3 separate regions of the Homo sapiens genome follow, and regions 1 and 3 are each linked to region 2. Evidence: fine-mapped expression QTL. A gene starts in region 2. Each other region holds a variant in brackets. All regions are shown on one strand. Distances are from middle to middle. Region 1 overlaps MAP3K5 (mitogen-activated protein kinase kinase kinase 5). Region 2 holds the start of MAP7 (microtubule associated protein 7). Region 3 overlaps MAP7 (microtubule associated protein 7).

Region 1 (8,184 bases), 34 kb after region 2:
CATGGCTCACTGCAACCTGTGCCTCCGGGGCTCAAGCAATCCTCCCGCCTCAGCCTCCCAAAGTGCTGGCATTGCAGACATGAGCCACCGTGCCTGGCCATCTTAGCCATTTTTAAGTGTATGGTTCAGTGGCATTAAGTACATTCACATTATTGTACTACCATCACCGCCATCCATCCACAGAACTCTTTATCTTGCAAAACTAAAACTCTATACTCATTAAACAGTAAGTTCCCATTTCTCCCTCCCCACAGTCCCTGAAAACAAGCATTTTAATTTCTGTCTCTCATAAATTTTACTACTGTAGGTACCTTCACATAAGTGGAATTACAGTATTTGGCCTTATGTGAATGGTTTGTTTCACTTGGCATAACATCTCTAAGCTTCATTCATGTTGTAGCATGTGTCAGGATTTCTTTCCTTTTTAAGCTTGAATTATATTCCATTGTATGTATTTATCATGTGCATTACCTTTGTAAAAACAAGCTTTTAGCATAAGACTATGACAAGCTCACTTAGATTTTGGGTTAACTCTACTACCTGCTGGCTTACACAGACCTCTAAAAAAAGAGGCTATTTCCCCAACAGGGCTCTGGTTAGATACCTCTGAGTATCTATAGTATGATTATGGAAGTATAATTTTATTTAAATTCCAAAAATTTAATCACCATCCCTACTGCAGCTGGGGAGATGGTGACCCAGCCACAAACCCATGTCAAGAGCTGGAGCTCCAGTTGCTCATGCCTGTCCTTGGTCCATCTTCATCAAACTCCCCTAGTTTGGAAGAGAGTCAGTTTGAGGACTTCATCGTACTAGTTGCACAGGAAATGAACCCTTGCTAGGTTCCCACTTGTTCTAGAAAATCCATCCAGGCTGAGTTTGTCCTGGTACCTTCATTTCTTTAAAAAATTTACATACTGGCTGGACATGGTGGCTCACGCCCTGTAATCCCAGCACTTTGGGAGTCCGATGCGGGCGGATCACCTGAGGCCAGGAGTTCAAGACCAGCCTAGCCAACATGGCAAAACCCAATCTCTACTAAAAATACAAAAATTAGCTGGGCATGGTGGCAGGCACCTGTAGTTCCAGCTACTCGGGAGGCTGAGGCACAAGAATTGCTTGAACCCGGGAGGCAGAGGTTGCAGTGACCTGAGATCATGCCACTGCACTCCAGCCTAGCCAACAGAGGGAGACTCCATCTCAAAAAAAAAAAAATTTACATTCTTATTAGGTGGAAGAGGGATCTGTTATAACCATAACCTGCTCCTCTCAGCTCTTTATTACATAGCAAATTACATCATAGGGCCCATACTTTGGGTTCATTCTCATCCTGGACAGTGAATGAGCAAGAGCAGGCGTGTATGTGTACACGTGTGTGTATACGTGTGTGTGTGTGTGTGTGTGTGTGTGTGTGTGTGTGTGTGTGTGTCTGACCTGGCCCAAGGCCCAGGAGTACAACCCAATAGCTCTCAGTCTGAATTCTACAGCAAACTTGCTTTCCAACCTCTAGGCTAGAGGCCAAATGTGTGGGCAAGTGCAAATTAGCTAAATTATTTCACTCTACTTGCAGGCAGTTGGGTTTCCCTAGTTGCAGCATAAGCATGCTTTTAGCATTTAATATTAGTGATAGGCTTTGCCAGTTGCTTTAATTTCTTATGCCCTCAATCAACTCAGGACTCTTGTCCCTGCCCACAATATAGCATAAAGACCAAGTGGCTTACACAGTGTCTCAGAGAATGCTAGTAGTTATTGAAGGATTCTAATTTGGCTTTAAATTGGGGATCATTTGATGTTGCAAATAAAATTGTCAACACACTTTCTACAAAGAAGCAATACACACATTAGGGCTGAATTAATTTTGGAATTTAAATAAAATTATACTTCCATATTTATACCACAAGCACCATCAAGAACCCTCTTATTTCAGTCTCCCACATCTTGTTAAGGGTCTCCTGGAGGTGGCTTGAGGCTTTTTTGGCACTGAGTTCCACAGATAAGTCTCACCCAAGAATAACACAGAGGGTTCTGAATGCAGTACAGAAGACTGGCTTTAGTTTGTGTTGCATAGCAACTCAATTTTGGAGAGAAGACTTCTCAGCAATCTCTCATTAGATCATGTGCTTTAATTTTTAATCAGTGATGCTCTGTACTCTGAAAGTATACTTCTGGCTAGAACAGAGTAGGTATTTATGAAACAAACATGTTAAAAATGTTCTATATGAAAACTAGAGAAAAACTGGAAAAAAATTAACTGGTTTTATTCAGCAGTGACCATTTCAATCTGTACTATTAAATTTTTCTCAATGGCCACTAGATGGCATTTCTCATATAGCATTAGAAAATGTATGACTAAAGTGTGTTACGTTGCTAAAGTTGTCAAAATAAACAATGACCCAACATAATTTCATAAGAACGAAGTTCAGCCATGGGAAATATTTTGTTATTTTCCATGGTGATTTGGTTTTATGTGTTTTTTAATTTGGGGAATGCAAACACACAAAACAACAAATCAGATACTTAGAAGCACACTGAGAGGCGAATATCTCACATTTTTCATCCAAAAAGAATAGAGTTCACTGGAATTTTAAAAGAAAAATAACAGAACTTATGTTTTATCTTATTTTTCTAACTAATTTTAGTGTGTGGGAAAACACTGGCAAAATATCATACTTACAGCATCTTGAAAACCAAAGAGTACCACCTGGACTTGGCTAATGCCATGGCTGTCGAAGTCCAGCTCCAGTTTCAGCTTTGACAGTGTGGTGGCTATGATTTTTCGGTCAGTGGATCTCACAAATTCTCTGAGGCTTGCAATGAGGGTTGTGATGTGTTCCCATTTTAGTTTCGGTTCTTCAGCCCCCTGTGAATAAAAATCAACAATCCTTACATCAACATATGCTGGATATACCTGCCATGGTAATCCTATCTCCATACCCCCTGCCCCCACATTTTTTTTTCTTTTGGTAGAGACAAGGTCTCACTATATTGCCCAGGCTGGTCTCGAACTCCTGGGCTCAAGCGAGCCTCCCATCACTACTTCCCAAAGTGCTGGGATTCCAGGCATGAGCCACCATACTTCCCACAGCCCTTTCTGAGAAGAACTGGACTTCCAAATGTCTCCAAAGGAAAGACCATATTTTGAACTATATGGCACCTCTTCAATCCTCCTACCAACACCAAGAAATAATCAGAGAGAAAAGGTACCTGCCCCACACGCTGGTCAGTAGCCATGATATAGTCAGATAACAAAGCTTTGCCCAAAAAGACTAAGGCCATAAGATTCTTTCAGAAATTTTAATTGGGAACTAAAAAGAGATTTGAGCAATAAGCCATAGGATCTCAACCTGAAAGTCTGCCCGGAAAGAGAAGCTATAAAATAGGGTCATGAATATGTCCAACCATAGCAGAAGCAATGGAATTGAGAAAGACAATAGGGAGTGTATTAGTTCGTTTTCACACTGCTGAAAACACATACCCGAGACTGGGCAATTTACAAAAGAAAGAGGTTTAATTGGACTTACAGTTCCACGTGGCTGGGGAAGCCTCACAATCACGGCAGAAGGCAAGGAGGAGCAAGTCACATCTTACTTGGATGGCAGCAGGCAAAAAGAGAGAGCTTGTGCAGGCAAACTCCCATTTTTTGAAAGCATCAAATCTTGTGAGACTCATTCATTATCACAAGAACAGCACAGGAAAGACCTGCCCCCATAATTCAATCACCTCCCACCAGGTTCCTCCCACGACACATGGGAATTGTGGGAGTTACAATTCAAGATGAGATTTGAGTGGGGACACAGCCAAACCATATCAGGGAGGGAGAGGAGAAGTGGACAAGAACAGAAATGCACACCAAGCAGGTCAACAGCAACCAAGCCAGAGAAAAGATGTGCAAACTCCGGGGACTTGAAGTTCCTCAGGCTCATATTCTGTTTTCAGTGTCTGTGAGACTCGGCTAGGCACTATGATTGGAATTCCTTAAGAGTCTACTTCCCTTATTGCTATGCGTGTCTACCTATAACATGTCCTTGGTACTTCAGTTGTCCTAACGGTGTGTCAGTTCCTTGCAACCAAGAGGGGCTGATCTCAAACTTCATTTTTGAAACTACCCCTTACCCATCAATGAAGCAATTGCTTCTAAGAACGGACCGATGGACTATTTTATTACACTAAAATATATTACAATGTTCAAACAAATGCTCTTTCTCAAAATGATTTTTTCTTTTTGTTTTTTTTTTTTTGTTTTTTTTTAAGAGACAGGGCCTCTCTTTGTCACCCAGGCTGGAGTGCAGTGGCACAATCATAGCTCACTGCAGCCCCTAACTCCTGGGTTCTAGCTCTCTTCCCACCTCAGCCTCCTGAGTAGCTAGGGACTATAGGCATGTGCCACCACACCCAGATAATTTTTTTTAAAACTTTTTGTAGAGACTGGGTTTTGCTAAGTTGCCCAGGCTGGTCTCAAATTCCTGGGCTCAAGTGATCCTCCCACCTCCGCCTCCCAAAGTGCTGGGATTATAGATGTGAGCCACTTTCCCCAACCTCAGATGGAACTTTTCTCCTTTGAGCAA[G/C]GCATATTGCTTCCTTTCTTTTCTTTTCTTTATTTATTTATTTATTTATTTATTTATTTATTTATTTATTTTTTGACAAAGTCTTGCTTTGTCACCCAGGCTGGAGTGCAGTGGCTCCATTTCAGCTCACAACAACCTCTGCCTCCCAACTTCAAGTGATTCTCCTACCTCAGCTTCCCAAGTAGCTGGGATTACAGGCACCTGTCATGCCCAGCTAACTTTTGTATTTTTAGTAGAGCTGAGGTTTCGCCATGTTGGCCAGGCTGGTCTTGAACTCGTGACCTCAAGTGATCCACCTGCCTCAGCCTCCTGAGTGCTGTAATCCCAAAGTGCTGGGACTATAGGCATGAGCCACCATGCCCAGCCCACACTGCTTCTTTAAGGAAGCACAGTAGGATGTTATTTGTTCCCATTTAACTTTAAGAAAATATAAGAAACTTTAAGAAACTATTATATCATTTTTATTTTATATTGTACATTTTCTTACTGTACCATTAAAATTAAAATTCCTCCACTGGGCTGTGAAAATTATAATTTCTAGGAGTCTATTAAAATAAAAAAGAAATGCACCATCGAGTTCTTTCTCTTAATATATTTTCATTTGGAAGCTTGGTCTCATGTTTATGTTTTCATGAGATAAGATTATATTGAAAAGCTTGAAAGCTGTCATTAAACGAATACTTTAAAATCACAATGGGAACCATTATAAACTTTGTTGGTTTTTTCCTTACCACAAACTAAACTGCACCCAAGGTAAAGATTCACAGGCAAAATCATAACATCATGAAAACATGTTCAAGAAGAAAAATGTGAGTTATGCAGAAATTGGAAGCTTCTCTTAGTAAAAACTCAGTTGCAACATGTTTGCCAATAGCAAACTTCAAATGGCAAACTTTTTTTTCGACATTAACTTTGTTTTTACAACAGAAAAACATGTTGCTTCTGGTTTTTTGATGTGTGTGCTACTGTCCTGCAAAGGAACATGCTCTACTCTGGGAAATGTTTTCTGTTCAGACTATTTCATCTACTTACGTCATCATTTATTTCTGTTCTGACTCCAGTCTCTCCATGTTAACTCACTCATGTGCCTTCAAAAACAAGCATCTTGGCTAGTATCTGGTGAGCCTGACTCAGCATCAGCATAGATTTAACGGTATGCATTTCCTGCACTCCTAGTACCAGGTTGTGATGGTTAATACTGAGTGTCTACTTGATTGGATCGAAGGATACAAAGTATTGATCCTGGGTGTGTCTGTGAGGGTGTTGCCAAAGGAGATTAACATTTGAGTCTGTGGGCTGGGAAAGGCAGACCCACCCTTAATCTGGGTGGTCAAAATTTAATCAGCTGCCAGTGTGGCTAGAATATAAGCAGGCAGAAAAATGTGAAAAGAGAGAGTGACCTAGCTTCCCAGCCTACATCTTTCTCTTGTGCTAGATGCTTCCTGCCCTCAAATATTAGATTCCAAGTTCTTCAGTTTTGGAACTCAGACTGGCTCTCCATGCTCCTCAGCCTGCAGACAGCCTATTGTGGGACCTTGTGATTATGTGAGTTAATACTTAATAAACTCCCCTTTACATATATATGTATTCCATTAGTTCTGTCCCTCTAGAGAACCCTGACTAACACACAGGGTCTTCTGCAAAGATGCTCTCCAGTCTTTATCCTTTAAACTTCCTCAAAAACCAGGAAAGGATTTCAGAAGGATGTTACAGATTAAAAGGCTTTTCATGGTTTAAGGGTTTGAGGACCTGACCAATATCTAGATTTGGTTTTGTTATAAAGTGTAGGCTTAAATATAGATACAAATATGTATCTAGAAACAATACAATGGCAATAATTACTTCTGATTGATTGTAGAAAAAAATTAAAGATATTAGATAACTATTATTAGCCTGCTTGATAATGATAACAATAACAGTTAACAATTGTGGAATATTTTCTGTTATGATTTAAATCACTCACAATCTCAGTTACTCCTGATAGCAAGCTTATAAAGTAGACTCCTCTATCATAGATGAGGAGGTTCAGGCTCTGAGAAGTTAAATCGGTTGCCCAAATTGCACAGCCTTTAAGTGATGGAACCAGGCCTCAAACAGCAAGCTAAGCCCAAGCTCCTAACCATTCTATTCTACTGCCCCAATGACCTGCAATAGCAGCTGTCAACCTGGGTCAGGACCTGTTCTACCACTGAATCACCATTTGATGTCACAGGAAAGGATTCCCAACATCCTTAACAGCAGTCAGAAGGGCCCCACCATCATGTGGCCATTATGGATTCAGCATGTGATTCTGATCAGCAGTTTCGGGTACTCACTGGTAGCTTCATGCTGGTCCCCTAAGGCATGCCCTCTGATGGTTGCTTTTAAGGTTTTCTTTCATTTCTCCTTTTACAGAGGACATTCAAATGCACTTTAAAACCAGGAGGCACCAAACAATTGAATATGACTAACCACTCCCACATTTAACTATTTCAGCACAGTCATAGAAGTGATGACCAAGGCAGTCCTATCCCTGATGATGCTATGGTCCAGCAGGGAGACAAAGAATAGACCCCAACAAACTGGCATTTCCTGTACTGGAAAAGCACATTCTTTGGGGGTAATTAGAGATTTAGGCAATTCCTGGGTTTTATGTGTTTTTGACCTAAAATCAAGCATTTTAAAGGTCCACAGGAGAGGCCTTCACTCTGCAGTGGCTAATGGTGATTTACTTTCTTTCTTCACCTCCAATGCCTAATCCCCACCCCACTTTATGTTTTCCTAGCACTTGTCACCATCGGGCCTACCAGCGAGGCAGAGCAATGTGGTGGTTAAAGCAAAAACTTCAGAGCCAAACTGCCTGGGTCAAAATCCTAACTCCATCACTTAGGACTGCATGACTTCGGCAAACTACTCAAGTCCTCTGTGCCTGTTTCCTCATTCGTAAAATGAGGATGCTAATAGAACTATTGGTATAGTATTACTGTCATGAAAATTAAATGAGCAAATACACATGGAATACTAAGAACAGTAACTGGCCTAAAGAAAATGTTAGCTGTTATTACTATATGTTTTATATATATGTATAGTTTTTCTTCTTCTGCTAGAATGTCAACTTCAAGGGGATGCAGATATTTTTGTTCAGTTCGCCACAGCATCCCCAGCACATAGTACAGTGCCTGGCCTTCGACTGATGCTCAATAAGTATTTGTTGAATGAATAAATGAAAGAACTCCAAGGGCTGCCCAGCTGCTCTCTCCATCCAGCTTGGTTCCTCTTCTTGGGTCAACCCAGTCCTATTCTCAGTCTTTGAATGATCACCGTGAGCCAAAGGAAAGGCCAGAGAGAAAGCTGATGGCTCGAGACCACTCCAGTCTCCACCGCCACGAAGCATGCATGACACTCATCCTCCCTGGACTCAGAGGCCAGCTACCCCTCACTCTAGAGCACCTTCTTCCTGGGCCTCAGAGTAACTGCCCGAGACAGCTTTCCTTTAGGACCCAAGTCAAGGTTTTTGAGAGTGTGTAGAAAACACTCATTTCAGCTCTCCTTGTACTGAGGCCCTACTGGCACATATATGGCCTTTCAGCTCCTTCTATGAGATCTAAAGAGGTGGACATTAGGGAATTCCTAAGGCGAT
Region 2 (8,184 bases):
GTTAAGTGACACCTACAAGATCACTTTTTGATTTGGAAAAGTTCATGAAAGGATGGTCACGAAAGAGGCCATGTTCACCACACAGGTTGCTAAAATGGACAAAAAGCCCAATTCCAGATTCTAAGTCATGACCCACTTCCCAAAATATCAACAGAATTGACAGGTTATTGGCATTAACTTATTCCTTCGTGCATGAAAGCTTCATGAATTAATCAAAAGCAGCTTTAAATTTGCTTTTAGTTCAGGAGGTTTTTAAAACAGGCTATCAGACTAGGAAATTAGTGCTGTACACTCGCTTTCCACAGCTCTTGAACATGAACATAAAATTAAATATACAAAGCTTGGGTAGAGGCAGTTTTGTGAATATCACCCATCGTAGGTCGACTACTCAAAAAAGGCTGAAAAAGGACTTGACATCCTCTAGTGGTGATGTCTTAAACTTGTTTCCAAGGCAATTTTTTTTTTCCCAGCTCTTAACTTTGGCTGTTGGCAAGAAAAATATTATATTGGAAGAACTTTTCATCCTCAAGAAAAATAAATGTTTTCGCCACAAAGAATGTGATTTGACTAACTTTGAGAATATATACCCACAGAAATAGGGTTTTTAAATGTTGGGTTTATATAATAGCTTTCAATATGCTTAAGAACGGTCTCATTTCATAGGCCACACGCCACCACTGTCAATTCATCTTTGATACACATATACACACACACACACTCACACATATAATTCTGAACACATTACAGGTATCATTTTTATAATAACCTGATATTCTCATCTAAAGTGCCCTAAAATTAGACCAGTCTTTGTATAGAGACCCAAAAACTAAGAGTTATTTAAGAGTGGACTCTACCTCATAATAATGAGTTCTAAAAAGAAATAAAATTAATCCCTCAAGAAATGTTGCCATTTAAGGTGGCAATTTTCAACTCTTGATGGTAATAGTTTCTCTGTCCACGGCCACCCACCACCACCACCCCCCCCCACCCCCCCAACAATTCCATACAAACTTCTGATTGTTTAAAAAAATGAGACTTGCAGTATTTGGATGTGTATAATGTGAAATATGTTCACCAGAATGAAGTGCTAAATTAAAGTCTCATATTCAGATATAGGTCATGTGTTTTAAATATATGGAATAACTTAAGTTGTTGAAATTCAAACAATCTCACTTGTTCTCTCAAAATAACTACCACCTAGATTCAAAAAAATACATTTACACCTTCCTTCTTTCTTTGGCACCTGCTGACACAAATGCTTCTGAACACTAAAAACATTAATAGTAATCTTGGGGTAGAAAAATAGGAAAGAGATGCGGGGCCAGAATTAAGTTTTCAGTGAAATTATAAAGTATAATTATTCAAGACCATATATAAAAAATGTCCTTTGGAAAATGAAGTTTTTAGGCAAAAGTGTGGAAGAAATGTTTTCTATGAAGGAGATAACAGCCAATTTAACTCCCTTTTTAATAAAAGAAAATATTACACTGACAGGCACATGGTTGATTTGTATATTAATTGTTGGAAGCACGGCCTATTCCTTAACATGCTCAGGCACTGAATATCCTACAGTTTGTAGTCAGTTCACTTATGTCTGAACAAGTTGTTCACGTGCAGATTCTAGAAAGTTTATTTTTGAGCACAAACTAACACTTAGCTCGCTAGAACAATGTTGTTTCACATGCAGTTACTGGGTCAGGGTTAGGAACGAAAATCATGCCGTATATTTACAAATGAGGATGCTCCTCTCCCGGGGCCCTCACTTGGGGGAGCCCCGTCCCAGCGTCTAGCTCATCAAATTCCCGAAAGCAATTACAAAGGCATCTCTTCTCCACCCCAAAACAAAATAATGATCTACCAATCTTGCGAACACATTAAGACAAACTCCCTACAGGAAGGAGCATGACTTAAACAAGTTCAAGATACTTTGTCAGTCTTAACCTCAGGTATCTTGGCTGAAGGGATTAAATCATTAGACTTTACGTACCCAACCTCTTCCTAGCAATAGCAGATACATAATTTGCAAATACTGTTTCAGAGCTCTCTGGACCTTTCACGTTAAAATAAGCATACTTGATGGTGGGGAGACAGTGATTCTTACATTTAGGAAACAAATGCTTCCGATTGTGACCGTATGGAAGTGGAAAACAGCTTGCAATTGGAGAGTCTAAGAATTGAATTTCTTTTTAAAGTAAGAAACTGCCTCACTGCCCCCATCCCCAAGTGTAGGAAGATATAGAAACAGCTTACTGGCCAAGAATAGAAGAGGGAACCAGTGGAGAGGGACGGATTTGCAAGATAGCCTCTGGAGAAAAAAAAATCACGAGGGAGAAAAATCGGCTTCATACTATGGAGAGATGGGCGGGGTTGGGAAGCCTTGCTGCTGGTCTTGGGAAGCCTTGCTGCTGGTCTTGGGGACGTGATCCCCTGTCCCTAAGTGTGCCCCTGGAGGTTGTGGGGGAGGGGTATCCTCAACACAGAGGCCTGACCACCAAATCCCGGGCTGCAGAGCCAACAATCCTCCTTTGGGCTCCTGCACAGACTAAAAACAAAAAACTCTGAGAACTCCGACAAGTCAACGAAAGTCTGATCCCGTCAAGCCCGCACTCGCAAACCCCCACCGTGCTGCACTGGGCCCCGGCCCTCCCGAGCTCGGTCCCCTCGGACGACGGTCGTCGCCACTGCGGGCACCAGATTGGGGGGCGGGCCGCTCACCCCGCGGTCCTGCCCCACACCGACCCCGCTGAGGAGCCCCCGGCACCCGGGGCGACCAGGGAAGGCGGGAGGAGGTGCCCAGAAACTGCTCGTCCTGCCAGTCGCACCTGGCCGACGACTCTCTGGCCACTGGTTTGGTCTGGGGGATACGATTTCCCATTCAACTGAATTAGACCCGAGGCCGCGGCGGGGAGGGCAGCGGCCGGGGTCTCTCCGTTTCCTCCCCCGGCTCGCCTCCACCTGTTGCGGGAAAGTCGCGGTGGAGCGCCCGAGGGCGGCCGCAACCCCGGCCGGGGCCGAGCCGGGCTGGCCGAGCCGCGGCGGCGAAGGGCGGGGGAAGGCGCTCTCGGAGCAGGGTGCGCGGCGCGCAGGGCCGGTTGTTCCGGGCCGCGGCCGCGCGGGCGGGGAGGGGGCTGCCGGCGCCGGGTGATTTCGGTGCCAGCCCGCCGGCCCCGCTCGCCGTCCCCTGCCCGACGGGACCCCCACTATCCCCGCTGTGCGGTCACCTGTTTCGCTTCGCACTGCGCCGTCGCCGCCCCTGTGGCCGTCGCCGCCAGCTCCTAGCTCCGCCATGGTGCTCCGATGACGCGCCCGGAGAGCCGCTCCGCCCTTTCCTCGGCTTGGCTCCCGCCGGCCCCCGCCTCCCAGGCCAGCGGCCCAGACAGGTGAGCGCAGTCCGGGGATGGCGGAGGGCGGGGACAGAGAGCGCGGCAGTCGGCTGCGGCCTGGGCCTGGCGCGCCCCCTCGCGGGCAGGTGCGGCGTGGCAGCCGCTCCGACCGCCGCTGCCGAGTCTCGGCTGGAAGAGCGGCGGGCGGAACCAGTACCTCAGTCCGGAGCTTCCGGTCGCCGCGGCCGACCAGCTGAGGGCTCCCGGAGATATGGAGCGGGGTCAGCGAGGCCTGGTGGCGCCTCCTGGAGTCTGGGACGAGCGGCGGTCCGAGGAGCAGCCCAGGTGGGGCGAGGGTACGGAGACGCTATTTCCCTCCGAACTCTGAAGTAGCCAGGTCAGTGTCGGCTCCGCGAGGGCTGGAGTTCACGGTGACAGCCGGCAGAGCATCTGATGCCACGTGGAGAGGCGAAGTACATGGGTCGGATTCCACGCTGGGAGCCGGCCTGGATCTGCGCTTTAGGAAGCCACTGCGGGCGACCCTATCTTGTCGCCAGGACTTCGCATCTGATGAGCCTCAGGGCACACAAGTTAGAGAGGCTTGTGCCGGCTGATGTGGCTTTTCTTTTTCTTAGTTTCCGTTTAGTAAACGACCTTGTGACTTCTGGCTTGCTCAGGAAGACCAGAAAAAAAGGCAATAGGTAACGAATTTTTCTTTTTTTAAAGAAACAGATTATTGGCCGAGGAAAAACCAATTTCGCTCTAAAGGATAAGCAACAAAATACTGAGGGGGGAAAAAGCCTACACAAATGGAAACATACGGCACAAAATCAAGGAGCGACCAGTTCCGCATGGTTACACTAAAATGCACTGCACTCCCACTCTCTGGCTTGGCTGAAGATAACCAGCAAGCTCTGAACAGTTTAAAAGCCTTCCAAGGACTGCAGCAGCACTGGACACACAAGAGAGTCGAGAACAGTATTGGATTTATTGTTAGGGTTACAATTTTCACGATCTTTGCATGCAAAACTTGCCACTCTGAGCCCAGTGAACTATTTTTATTTGGTTTACTTACTGGCTTTCTGGATGACTAGGTAGAGCTTTAACTAAAGAACACTTCTGCTGTGGTCTGTGATGATGAATTTTCCCGTAGTGTCATTTCTATAATGGAATAGGCAAACTGACCATTTAGAATGTGATATTCCTAAATCACATTCAAATCAGTCTTATCAGAGACTTCTAATCAATAAAAATAAAGCACCAGATGGCTAGAGGTAGTTTTTGACCTCAGCTTGGGCCTCAGCAAAGATTTTTTGTGTTTTTTTTAACTACATTAAAACATCAGAGTTTAAGACACTTTTCTTTGAGCATCAGAAATACTCTCAGCTGAATTTAGAGTTGAACTATCCGGAAGAACCCTGGAGAAGGAGGGTGATTTATTTTCAACTTTCTGATTTACCACCGACTTAAATCAACCAATGAGTTCTTTCTTTGACCAAAAAAAAAAAAAAAAAAAAAAAAAAAAAAAAAAAAATTCAAGACTTGTGATGTTTCTATTTGTTTTGTTTTGTTTAGTTTGGTGTGTGCTTACTCATTGTCCCATTCTTTTGATAACCTGTATTTATCTGCCACAAGTTAAACAAAAATAAATGAAATAAGGAACACACCAAAATCCTGCACTTAGGCCCTGTATAGACAGTGTGTTCCAAACCTAAGGAGGTGTCTGCAACAGGGGAGGCTGCTGAGTGACTCTGCAGAGAACAGATGACATCTGTTAAATGTCAAACACCATCACGTCGTACTTCAAGTTGTACTTTACTTGGAACATGGAAGCCATCTGTCTGGAGCTCCCACATCCATTTCAAATCTTCAGGGTTCCCCATTCCAGGGGAGGAGCTGAACCTCCTGACACCGTCCACTTCCCTCCTGCCTCCTTCAAACATCATCCCTTTTTTCTCCCGAATCCCTAAATGTTTCTGCACCCAAGGGCTCTACCCCAATAAACACAGCTAAGACTCTTTGATTCTTAAAATGTCTTCCTTTAACGTCCCACCCTCCAGAATCTATTGTCGTATGTTTTGTTCACCAAAGGTAATAAAAATAAATGTGGATTTTGGTGCCGTTATTTTTCAAAAAAAGCTATATATTAATAGTTTTTCTTGCTTATGTATACAAATCAAATTACTTATTTTTAAATCCATCATTCCCCTAGAGTTTCTGCAGCACTTGATCCTCTAATCACCTTGCTCTTGGTCTACCATTGGCTTGGTTTTTCTCCTTCCTCTGTAGCAGTCCTTTCGTCTTTGTTGACTCAGATTCTTCCTCCCTTCTAATCCTCCAATATTTTTACCATCCCCTAATTGTAAACCACAGGCTTTTTATCTTTACTGTCTCTCACAGCCCTCATTTACTATTACTTCCATCCCGGATCCTGGTGACTCCCAACTCCAGAATATATACCCTTAACCTCACTCCTGACTTCCACTAATACATTCTGAATGGTCCCTGCACAATTCTATCAAGATACCCTGCTGTTAATTTAATATGTTCCAAACCACATTAATCTTGCAATATACAATCACTTTACACATACCTCTCCCTTGCTCAAAAACCTTTAATAGATTCCCCGTTCCTATATAAGTAAATATTAACTTCACCTCCTCACCATCACCACCACCACCCCCTAATTGGGCCCTGAGCTCTCTACTACCCATTTCCACTTTTCACCTCTGTAACTCATATTTCTAGCCCATGGAGTTGTTCATTCTCCAGAACACCTTCCAAATCCCTGCTTTCTAGTCTTTGTGCTTGAAGCTGCTCTGCCCGAAGTGATGTCCTTCATCCTGACGTATTTAATAATACTTTCCCTTTGAGGCCCAGGTTAAGGTCTACTTCCTCCATGAAGCCTGTTCTTCCTGCCCTGGCTCCCAGCATGCCTGTCCTTTGGACCTGGCCAGGGCTTGCTGGGCTTGATACTTGTCCAGCTGTTAAAATAGACTAGGCATGAGTTATTGCAAATTTGCCTTCTCAATCTGATGCACATTTTTGGTAGTAGGGTCTTTGTCCTCTACTTCTCTACAGGGTGTCCATAAAGTCTAGAACTATCAGTTATTTTATTTGTTCACGAGTTGCAGATGTTCTTGATGACATCATGTGCACTGCCTGCATTCTGAACTTGGTAGGCATGGTATATATCTTTTGTGTTGCTACCGTGCCTCACACACAGTGGGCATTCAAATGGGTTAATAATTCCTCAATGCCAAGCTTTTTTATGTGGTGGCCTAGGGATGAACGAAACCAAGTATCCAATGACAGAAGAAAGAGATCAAAATGCAGTTAAAAGGAAACATTAGATCTACTTCTCCCAGCAAATTCCTGTTTTGTTTCTTTTATAACACTGCCACCACCCCTGCATTAACTGTTCTGTTTCAAACCATCTTTCCAGGCTCAGCTCTGCACCTTCACTCCTCTGGAAAGCTTTCCTTGACCCCTTCTGACAGTAAATGTAACTATAGCACTGACTGCACCACTGTTGTTTCTGCTTTGTCTTGATTCCTTGACAAGAAACTTCAGGGGAAAGAACTGTATCTTGTTGGTGCACCACAATATGTAGTACCCAGTATTTAATAAATACTTTTGAATGAAGGATAAGTGATGGCAATAGCAAGCATATCTCAGTGTTTACTGTATGCTAAGCATTGTGCTGAGCACCTCTCCTGCATTGTCTTTTCCTTTTTGAGACAGAGTCTTGCTCTGTCGCCCAGGCTGGATTGCAATGGCGTGATCTCGGCTCACTGCAACATTCACCTCCTGGGTTCAAGCAATTCTCGTACCTCAGCCGCCCGAGTAGATGGGATTATAGGCGTGCGCCACCACGCCTGGCTAGTTTTTGTAATTTTAGTAGAGACAGGGTTTTGCTGTGTAGGCCAGGCTGATCTTGAACTCCTGGCCTCAAGTGATTCACCCACCTCGGCCTCCCAAAGTGCTGGGATTACAGGCACAAGCCACTGCGCCCAGCCTCCATTTTCTTATTTACATCTTATAGCAGACCTATGTGGAAGGTACATCATTTCCTCCATTTCACAGATGAGGAAGCTGAGACTTGGAGAAACTAATTCAGTTGTTCCAGGTCACAAGTCAAGTTACAGTTTTGCTTCAGGCCTGGGTGTGTAGCCTCCTGCTACGCTAAACAAATGATGAACGTTAACCATCTTGCTATTCCCTCTATAGAAAGGGGCTCTCCATTTCCCTCTCTAGCTGTTACCTGAAATAAGGAGGTGAAGCTTGATCATGTTAAAACACCTGTGAAACTAATTTTTAAAAAGGGTATCTGGGCCCAACCCCAGACCAGTAAAAACAGTTTTCCGGCTGGACACAGTGGCTCATGCCTGTAATCCCAACACTTTGGGAGGTTGAGGCAGGATGATCACTTGAGCCTAAAAGTTCGAGACCAGAGTGAGCTGAACATAGTAAGACCTTGTCTCTACAAAAAATTTAAAAATTAGCCAGACATGGTGGTGCATGCCTGTAGTCCCAGCTACTTGGGATGCTGAGGTGGGAGGACTACTTGAGCCCAGGAGGTCAAGAATGCAGTGAGCTATGACAGTGCCACTGCATTCTAGCCTGGGTGACAGAGACTCTGTCCCAAGAAAAAACAAATAACAACAACAACTCAGTTGTCCCAAGGTGGTGGCATCAATATTTTTGAAAAAGCATCCAAGTCATTTTAATGCGAAGCTGAGTTGAGAATCACTGGCCTAGATTGATCCTAAAAGCGTTTCAAATGCAAACCTTTCCATAATGGAGTCTTCCATAATGGAACTGTCTTCTTTTGTGCCTGAGACCCAAAATTCTCACAAAT
Region 3 (8,184 bases), 190 kb before region 2:
AAAGCGCGAAGCCACCCTTAGACTTCCTCCCGCCTTGCCAGCTGCATTGCTGTCCGTGCTAAATAGAAGCAACGTGTAACCACCAATATCTTGGGGAGAGCTGGCTTTTTGGAAGGAATTTAACTATTTTTTAAAGGCTCTGACTTGTTTAATTCAAATAATGTGACTTCTTAGTAATGAATTTGAAGCACCCCAGCCAAAGGGAATCTTTGTAAATAAATAAGGGTCACAGTGTTCTGTCACAGGACAGGAGGAAGACAGCCATGTAAGCTCCCTGTTGGAGCCAAGGGAAAGGCATGGCCAAGATGGCGGTCCAGCGAGTGCATGAGATCCTTCCCCAGGGTACAGTTGTGTTCGTTTGAAGAACAATTATATTGACATTCGTCTTATTAGGCCCAGAAGATGACCAATTAAACAAACTGTTTCTGGAATACTGCCTGGCAGGCAATCATGGGGCATGTAAAGATCCCACCTGGCTACCCTCCGAGAGGAGTTTTATCTGGAAAGGAGAAAACATGAACCCTTATTATGCAGCCTTAATGTGATAATTACAAAGATAAAACGGAAACCTGGAGATTGGAGATGTGTTAAGTAAAAAAGCAGACTGTACAATTGTACCTCTGCTGTGGTTATAATTATGTAAATATGTATATGTATGTATATATACACACACACTCCCATACTGTTGAGAGACTAGAAAGGACCACCCAAAATGTACACTATTACTGAAAATTGGTATGATTATGGATTTTTTTTTTCTTTAAAGCTTTCTCCATCAATGTTGTTGCACTGTCATTAAAATAAGAAAACATGGCTGGGCATGGTGGCTCATGTCTGCAATCTCAACACTTTGGGAGGTTCAGGTGGGAGGATCCCTTGAGCCCAAGAGTTTGAGACCAGCCTGGGCAATATAGTGAGACCCCATTTCTATTTAAAAAAAAGAAGAAGATGTGATTTAAAAAACAAACTGCTTAGTAGTCATAGGAAAATTAGGTAAGAGTAATCCTGAAAGAACTAATCCATTCACTTTCATCAGTATTATCACCTCCTCCCTCTCAGAGGGGTGATGAGTTAATCCAAAGTATCACTGACACCATGGTGTGGAGCAATGTCTCCCATTTACCTTTCAAGCTCTTCCTGCTCCCTCCTCTCCCTTTCTTCCTTTTCTCTCTGCTCTCGGGCCAGCCGCCTCTTCTCAGCTAGAAGCCTTGTGGCCTCCTCTGGGTCGGTGGTGCCTGCAGAAGTCTTAACAGAAGCACTGGCATTCACAGTGGATGACGGGGCTGAGACCATGGCTGGGGTGGGGACCGGGGCTGGAGCTGGGGCCGAGGCTGGAGCTGGGGCCGAGGCTGGAGCTGGGGCCATGGCTGGAGCAGCTGCACAAATAGGTACAAGGAGAAAACCAGTTGGAAACAAAATCCAAAGAACAAAACCAAAACTAGCATTCCCCACATCCAAGGCCTAGAATTTACCATTATGAAAGAAAAGGGAATGTTTATTACTGTGTGTTCTCACGGTTTCACTATGTTCTATCTGTAACCAAGCAACAGATAAAAAAAATCAGTATGTGTAAGTAAGACATCCAACAAAGCTGACACTCTGTCACCAAGTCTTATTTTTATACCAGTTAAATCAGTTAACATATATTGAATGTGTACAAAGCCTCATGTTAGAGTCTGTGGGGAGTTATACACTGAGCAAAAAGAAGATGAGATCATCCATTTGTCTTTTATTGCATTTGAAAATTCCTACTCTTCGGTAACCATTCATTACTAGAGCAGCATCCTCAGCATCCATGCCATGAGTCCAGATTCAGCCTGGGAAGATGATACCCTATGAAGAGGACCCTTTTGTCTCCCCAGAGCTGTCTCTAGGTCTGAGATGGGAGGAGCTCGGGGCCTCTTTGGGAGCTGGTGCTCATTCTGCTTATATATCCCAAGCTGCCAAGATGCAAGATGGGAGCAGAAGTTCTCTGGCCTTACTCGGATTTAGGAAGATGACCTAGAGAGCTGGTGCCCCAGAAGCCCCACACTGATGCTCACAATTCTGCACCACAGTGAGCAAGGCACCAGCAAGTGCAAGCTCTGGCCCCTGGCTGCTCCAGCCCCTCCTTTTGAGAGTCACATTTCTACTTCTGCTTCCACAGACTTTTCTCGGCCATCATGATGCTCTAGCCCTTCTTTCCTTCCTTTTTCCATGGAAACAAATACTGGACTCCTCCTTTTTCTAACATTTTAACCTGTTTTGAATCATCTCTTCTTTCTTTGCCCCACCCTCTATCTTCAAATTAAGTCTTTTGAATGAAGACAATTCTCAACTAGAAATATTGAATTCACAGCTCCAGGTGGTTTTAAATTTCTAAATAGCATCTGGCTAGCCTGGCAGAGGTGAGAACCAGTGGGCCTTCTGGAAAAAAATTCTGACTTCTATCAAGCACACAGGCTATACCAGGGGTCCTTAAACTCCAGTATGCACAGGAATAGCATTGCCAGATTTAACTGGCCACCCTGTGTTCTATCTGGCAACCATGTTTAGGAATCAACTGACAAGCTTAGTATCTTTCAGAGTCCTCATATCCACCACTACATATTCTGACTTAGTAAGTCTGAGGTAAAAACCAAGGGTCTGTATGTCAAAACATTATAGATGTGGTGGTTTAAAAATATTTCCAGTTTTCCTCAGCTGCTGCCAAGCTGCACTCGGTCCCTCTGAGGAATGTAGGGCCACATTGAAGTGGAACCCTCACTTCATCTGGCAACTAGCACCTTGCCTGGCAGTGCCAGCCCCACACTTGCTCACACCATGGCCTCTGTTTCTGAGCTCGCCTGCATTCTGCATAAGGCTCGGCCCTCATTCTGCATGAGGGTGAGGTGACCGTCAAGGAGGATAAGATCAATGCCCTCATTAAAGCAGCTGGTGTAAATGTTGAACCTTTTTGGACTGGCTTGTTTGCAAAAGCCTTGGCCAATGTTGACATGGGGAGCCTCATCTGCAATGGAGGAGCTCGTGGACCTGCACCAGCAGAAGGTCCTGCCCCCTCCACCAATGCTGTTCCAGCTGAGGAGAAGAAATAGAAGCAAAGAAAAGAGAGTCTGAGGAGTCCAAGGAGGATATGGGCTTTGGTCTTTTTGACTAAACCTCTTTTGTAACAAGTTCAATAAAAAGCTGAACTCTTAAAAAAAATTCTTTGAAAACTCTCTCTTCAAAAGTTGGAGACTATGTTTCTCCTTGAGTGTGAGTTCCACCTAGTGACTTGCTTCTACTTAACAGAATGTGGCAGAAACATTGGTGTGCGACTTCTGAGACTGGGTCATAAAATACATTGTACATTCCTCCTCATTCTCTCTTCCAGGTCACTCACTCTGGCAGAAGCCAGCAGAGCAAGCAGATAGATGAGGACATTCAGCAATAATATGGAGCGGTCCATGTGTGGAGAAGCTGAGGCCACCCGCCCCCGGCCTTGTATGTAAGCCACCTTTCAGATCTGGTTGAGTCTTGAGATGACTGGAGCTCTAGTGGACAGCTTGACTGCAATCTCATGAGCGGTCCTGAGCAGGGACCACCCAGCTGTGCTGCTGCCAAATTCCTGACCCAAGAATCCATGTGATATGATAAATGTTTGTTGTTGTTTCATGCTGCTAATTCATTATGCAGCAATAGATAATGAATACAACAGGTGATTTTGATGCAGGTGCTCTGAACACATTTTGTGAAATGGACTCAGCCAATAAAAGCACTGAGAACCTACACCTGAATTCACGTGTTTGTGGCTCTATCAATAGGCTTTTGGATGTATGATTTGAGATTTACATTTCTACTTCTGCTTCCACAGATTTTTTTCATGGCTATTATGATGTTCTATGACCCTCCTTTCCTTTCTTTCTTTTTCCATGGAAGCAAACACTGGACTCCTCCTTTCTCTACCATTTTCACCTGTCTTGAATCATCTCCTCTTTCTTGCCCCACCCTCTATCTTCAAATTAAGTCTTAAGTAGAAAACTTTGGAATGAAGACAGTTTTCAACTAGAGATATTGAACTTCAAGCTCCAGGTGGTTTTACATTTCTAAGTAGCATCTGGTTACCCTGGCAGAGGTGAAAACCAGTGGGTCTTCTGGAAAAAATTCTGACTTCTATCAAGCACACAGGCTACGCCAGGGGTCCTTAAACTCCAGTATGCACAGGAATAGTGTTGCCAGGTAATTTTTTACTTAGCGTTGCTAAGTAAAAAACTATTTTTAAGCAATGCGAAGTTAAAATATTATACTTAAGGAAAGGTATTAAACTTAACCTTAGAGTAAAATTTCCAAGTCTCCAATAAAAGAAGAAAAGGAAAACAAAAAAAGCTTCATCAAAACAGTGCGGGAGAAAAAGAGAGAGCACCCAGACCACAGGTGAGTTTGCTCTTACCAGGGCCAACTTCTGGTTCAGCAGGTGTCCGCTCTTCAACTGTGGCTTCTTCTACCTTCACTAAAGGTGCTCTGCCCTTTAGTGAGGGCTCATTGGCAACTTTCTGAGGTTCCTTCTCAGGATCTTTCTTCTCAGGCTCCACTTTGACTTCCCTCTTGACAGGGCGGATGTTGCCGGGGGATGGGGGCCGGA[C/T]CTGAGCAGGAGCAGCTTTGACTGAGCCGGGTGGCAAGGAGGATGTCGGTCTGGGTGTGCCAGGCAAATGAGGAAGAGACTTGGACGGAAGCCTGGGCCACAAACAAACAAGGCAGACAAAAGGGGACACATGAGAACAGGCTTGCCAGAACCTAGAACACGACTCGATGGAAGAGAATGCAGATATTTAGCTCCGTGTATTTGTTTTTTATGTGGTAGATACAGAAATAGAGTTGCTTTAGGGAACCATTCCAATTTCTCTTTTTTCTTTCCTTTTGGGAAGAATGCTATTCCCTAAGTCAAAGCCAAACAGCATGAGAAGAACAGTTCACTTTCAGAGGAGAGAGCTACTAATTCTCTAACATGAAACAACCCAGCCAGCCACTTATATTTCACTTACCAAAGTCGGGAGCGAGCTGGTTGTCTTGCTTTGGGATTAGATGGAGATACAGCCCTTCGGGTGCCAGATGTGAGGAAGAGTACATTTTCTCTCTCTCTTTCTTTTTTATAGCTCTAAGTTCAGAGAAACTCAATAGTTAGATTTTTCCACAAGCGAGGCAAACACACTCACAATACTCAACAGTGGAGCTAGAAACCATTGAATGACTTTTAAGAAATTTTCTTAGCTATGTCACATATACCCATTCCATCTCAACAAAAGGCCCTTGTTAGCTTAACACTGAACAGTATAACTGAATTAACACAATGTGACACTAATAAGGTGATTCCGGATGTGTTGGAGTCATATTTGTCAAAAAGCATATGTGTGTACATACTTTTAGAAAGCACCTATACTTTGTGTCTAAAATTAATTACCTGAAGCAAAACGTCCCATTCTGGTTTATCCCCCACAAATGTCAAATGTTACTTTCATTTTTTAAAAAATTTTAATTAAAACACATCTTTTTCTTTTTAATTCTTCAACATTTTCCCCCCAAACACACTATATCTCAGTCTTTAAAAAAATTATATGCCTGCTATATTAGACATAAACTCATTTTTTTCTTTTATATTGATGTTGTATAATGGAATCAAGTCCTTCTTCACCTACTGTCCTCTTGCAGCAATAGATAACTGATACAATAGGTGATTTTGAAGAAAAGTCAGGTTTAAAGTGAGGAATTTCAGCTATTTATTTTTTTGCTCTTCCTTACCAGGAATAAACTGAAATCTGAAGGTGGGCCAAAACATCACCCCTCCCTGATTGCCAACTAGGAATTCAGCTTGAGAGATGACACTTTCCTAAGTCAAAATGGGCAAAGGGAAGCCCAGAGAAGTGTTCCACTACTCTAAAGTCAATGAAGACCAAAACAAACAAACAAAAATTGTACAGAGCAAAACAGACCCATTCCAAGTATCTGAAACCTGACAATGCCCTCAGGTGGGAGGGGCACGTGCTGGAGGCACCTATGTGAACACCTGTCAGGAGGGCAGACTGCAAGCGTACATGGGAAGGGGCAGAGTATTATCTAGCCCCAGGTCACATGAACTAGTACTGTACCTTTTCTTCTCTCCTTTTCTGCCTGGCTCAAGCATCGACTCCTCTTTTCCTTCCTTTCCCTTTTGTTCCCCTCAGTGTCCCTTTTAATTGCTTCCCTCCATTTTCCTTAGCAGCATCCTAGTTGATGGTCTGGGTTATCAGAGGAGCAAAAACATTTAAGTGTCAAATAATGCTCATTGTCTCCCTGGGATTTCTAAACAGAAAAAATGAAGAAAGAGGCAGAGAAGAGCTTCACAAGGTGTGTGCCAGCTCTGCATCATTTCCAGCTGCTCAACCACCATTTCTCCCATTTTAGGTCCCCAAAAGTAGGAGGTGGGGCCTCACAGAGCTGCTGTGGGCTTTGGGTATCAAAAGCTGCAGCCACCATATGGGGCACTCCTGGCTGGTGTACAGGGTGGCATGCCCAGGTCTTTTCCCAGGGGAGACTGGGGTTAAGTACCTCAAGTAGCCCTTCTTTTTTTTTCTTTTTCTCAAAACATTTTGATTTGGCTGAAATCAGATCAATGGGTGATGTAAATGGGAAAAAGACTCAAGAGGGACAATTTTTGATGTGGCGTGGGGGTGGTTGGGGATTATTATTATCTGTGCCTTGATAATACAGGGATCAGGGAATGAACCTATATAAAGGTATATAATCCTAGAATTACAGTACCTTTGAGCCAATTCTTTCTTTTTTAAAAGTTATCTCCTTTAATCACCTAGGGGTAGGTGAGCAGAGGAGGAATGGTTTGGAAAAACACTCGATACTTAACACCCTCCCAACCAGGGAGTTTTTTTTTTTCTTTCTTTTTTAAACCTTTCAGTCCTTTTGTTACTCTTATATCCAACCACCCATTTGGGTACCACACATGTAAAGGCACTCCCAATTCTCATCCTGATCTGAGTTAATAGCCCACCATCTATACAATCATCTTTCCTATTAATAGTTTCCACAATGCTGAGGGGGAACACATACTCAGCAAGTCAATGGTCTGGGCAACATATCAGCAGGAAAAGGACTTTAATTTTATAATTAAGGTAGGTTTAGAATACAGTATAAATATCCTCCAACAGAGACGATTCACTGACAGATACTTTAACGCAGTGCTGTTTAATAGAACTTTCTGATATGATGAAGATGTTCTAAATTTAGCCACTAACCACATTTGCCTATTTGAATTTAAATCTAAATTAATTCAAATTAAGTAAAATAGAAAAGGAAATTTGAAAAACAACTCTATTTCCTATAGCATCCAAAGGAATAAAGTACTTAGGAATGAACTTAACAAAGGAGGCTAAAGATCTGCATACTGAAAACTAGAAGATAGTGCTGAAAGAAATTAAAGGCAACACAAATAAATGGAAGGAAGTCCTGTGTGCAGGGATTAGAAGATTTAATACTGTTAGGATGTCACTACTACCAAAAGGGATCCACAGATTCCATGCATTCCCTATTGAAATCCCAATATAATTTTTTATTTTTGCAGAAATATAAAAATTCAACCCAAAATTCACAGAAAATTTCAAAGGATCCTGAAGAACCAAAATAATCTTGAAAAAGAACAAAGTTGGAATTCTTACATTTCCTGATTTCACAACATATTACAGGTTGAGTATCCCTTATCCAAAATGATTGGGATTACAGTGTGCAGATTTCAGATTCTGGAATACTTGCATTAACACTTACTGCTTTAGCAGCCTTAATCCATATAACTGGAAATGTGAAATGCTCCAATGAGCATCTCCTTTGAGTGTCATGTTGGTATTCAAAAAGTTTCACATTTTGGAGCATTCTGTATTTTTGAATTAGAGATACTCAATTGGTGAAAAGCTACAGTGATCAGTACTGTGTGGTAATGGTATCAAGACAGATATAGATATATGGGGCTGGGCACTACGACTCATGTCTGCAATCCCAGCATTTGGGGAGGCCGAGATGGGTGGATCGCTTGAGGTCAGGAGTTCAAGACCAGCCTGGCCTACATGGCGAAACCCTCTCTCTACTAAAAATACAAAAATTAGATGGGCGTGGTAGCACATGCCTGTATTCCCAGCTACTCAGAAGGCTGGACATGAGAATTGCTTGAGCCTGGGAGGCAGAGGT

What was found.
Region 1: its variant is fine-mapped to the expression of MAP7 in coronary artery (GTEx, PIP above 0.99).
Region 3: its variant is fine-mapped to the expression of MAP7 in blood mononuclear cells (TOPMed, PIP above 0.99). The same link has a PIP of 0.9 or more in T cells, lung, monocytes, subcutaneous fat, tibial nerve and whole blood.

Annotation. Positions count from the first base shown.
Region 1 is chr6:136,580,881-136,589,064 of GRCh38, forward strand. MAP3K5 (mitogen-activated protein kinase kinase kinase 5) reads right to left here. Exons shown (of 30, transcript NM_005923.4): 24 at 2,675-2,860. Among named protein-coding and RNA genes, the nearest start is that of MAP7-AS1, 32 kb to the left of the region's middle. The variant G/C (reference allele first, on the strand shown) is at 4,566.
Region 2 is chr6:136,547,121-136,555,304 of GRCh38, forward strand. It overlaps MAP7 (microtubule associated protein 7), which reads right to left and starts at 3,302. Exons shown (of 18, transcript NM_003980.6): 1 at 3,222-3,302. The coding sequence starts at 3,288. MAP7-AS1 (MAP7 antisense RNA 1) reads right to left here and starts at 5,385. Exons shown (of 1, transcript NR_186370.1): 1 at 3,603-5,385. RefSeq lists enhancers at 2,138-2,676, 3,215-3,752 and silencers at 2,974-3,023, 3,034-3,213, 3,254-3,603.
Region 3 is chr6:136,361,327-136,369,510 of GRCh38, forward strand. MAP7 (microtubule associated protein 7) reads right to left here. Exons shown (of 18, transcript NM_003980.6): 9 at 5,001-5,113; 10 at 4,409-4,692; 11 at 1,124-1,376. It also overlaps the pseudogene RPLP1P8. Among named protein-coding and RNA genes, the nearest start is that of BCLAF1, 76 kb to the left of the region's middle. The variant C/T (reference allele first, on the strand shown) is at 4,601.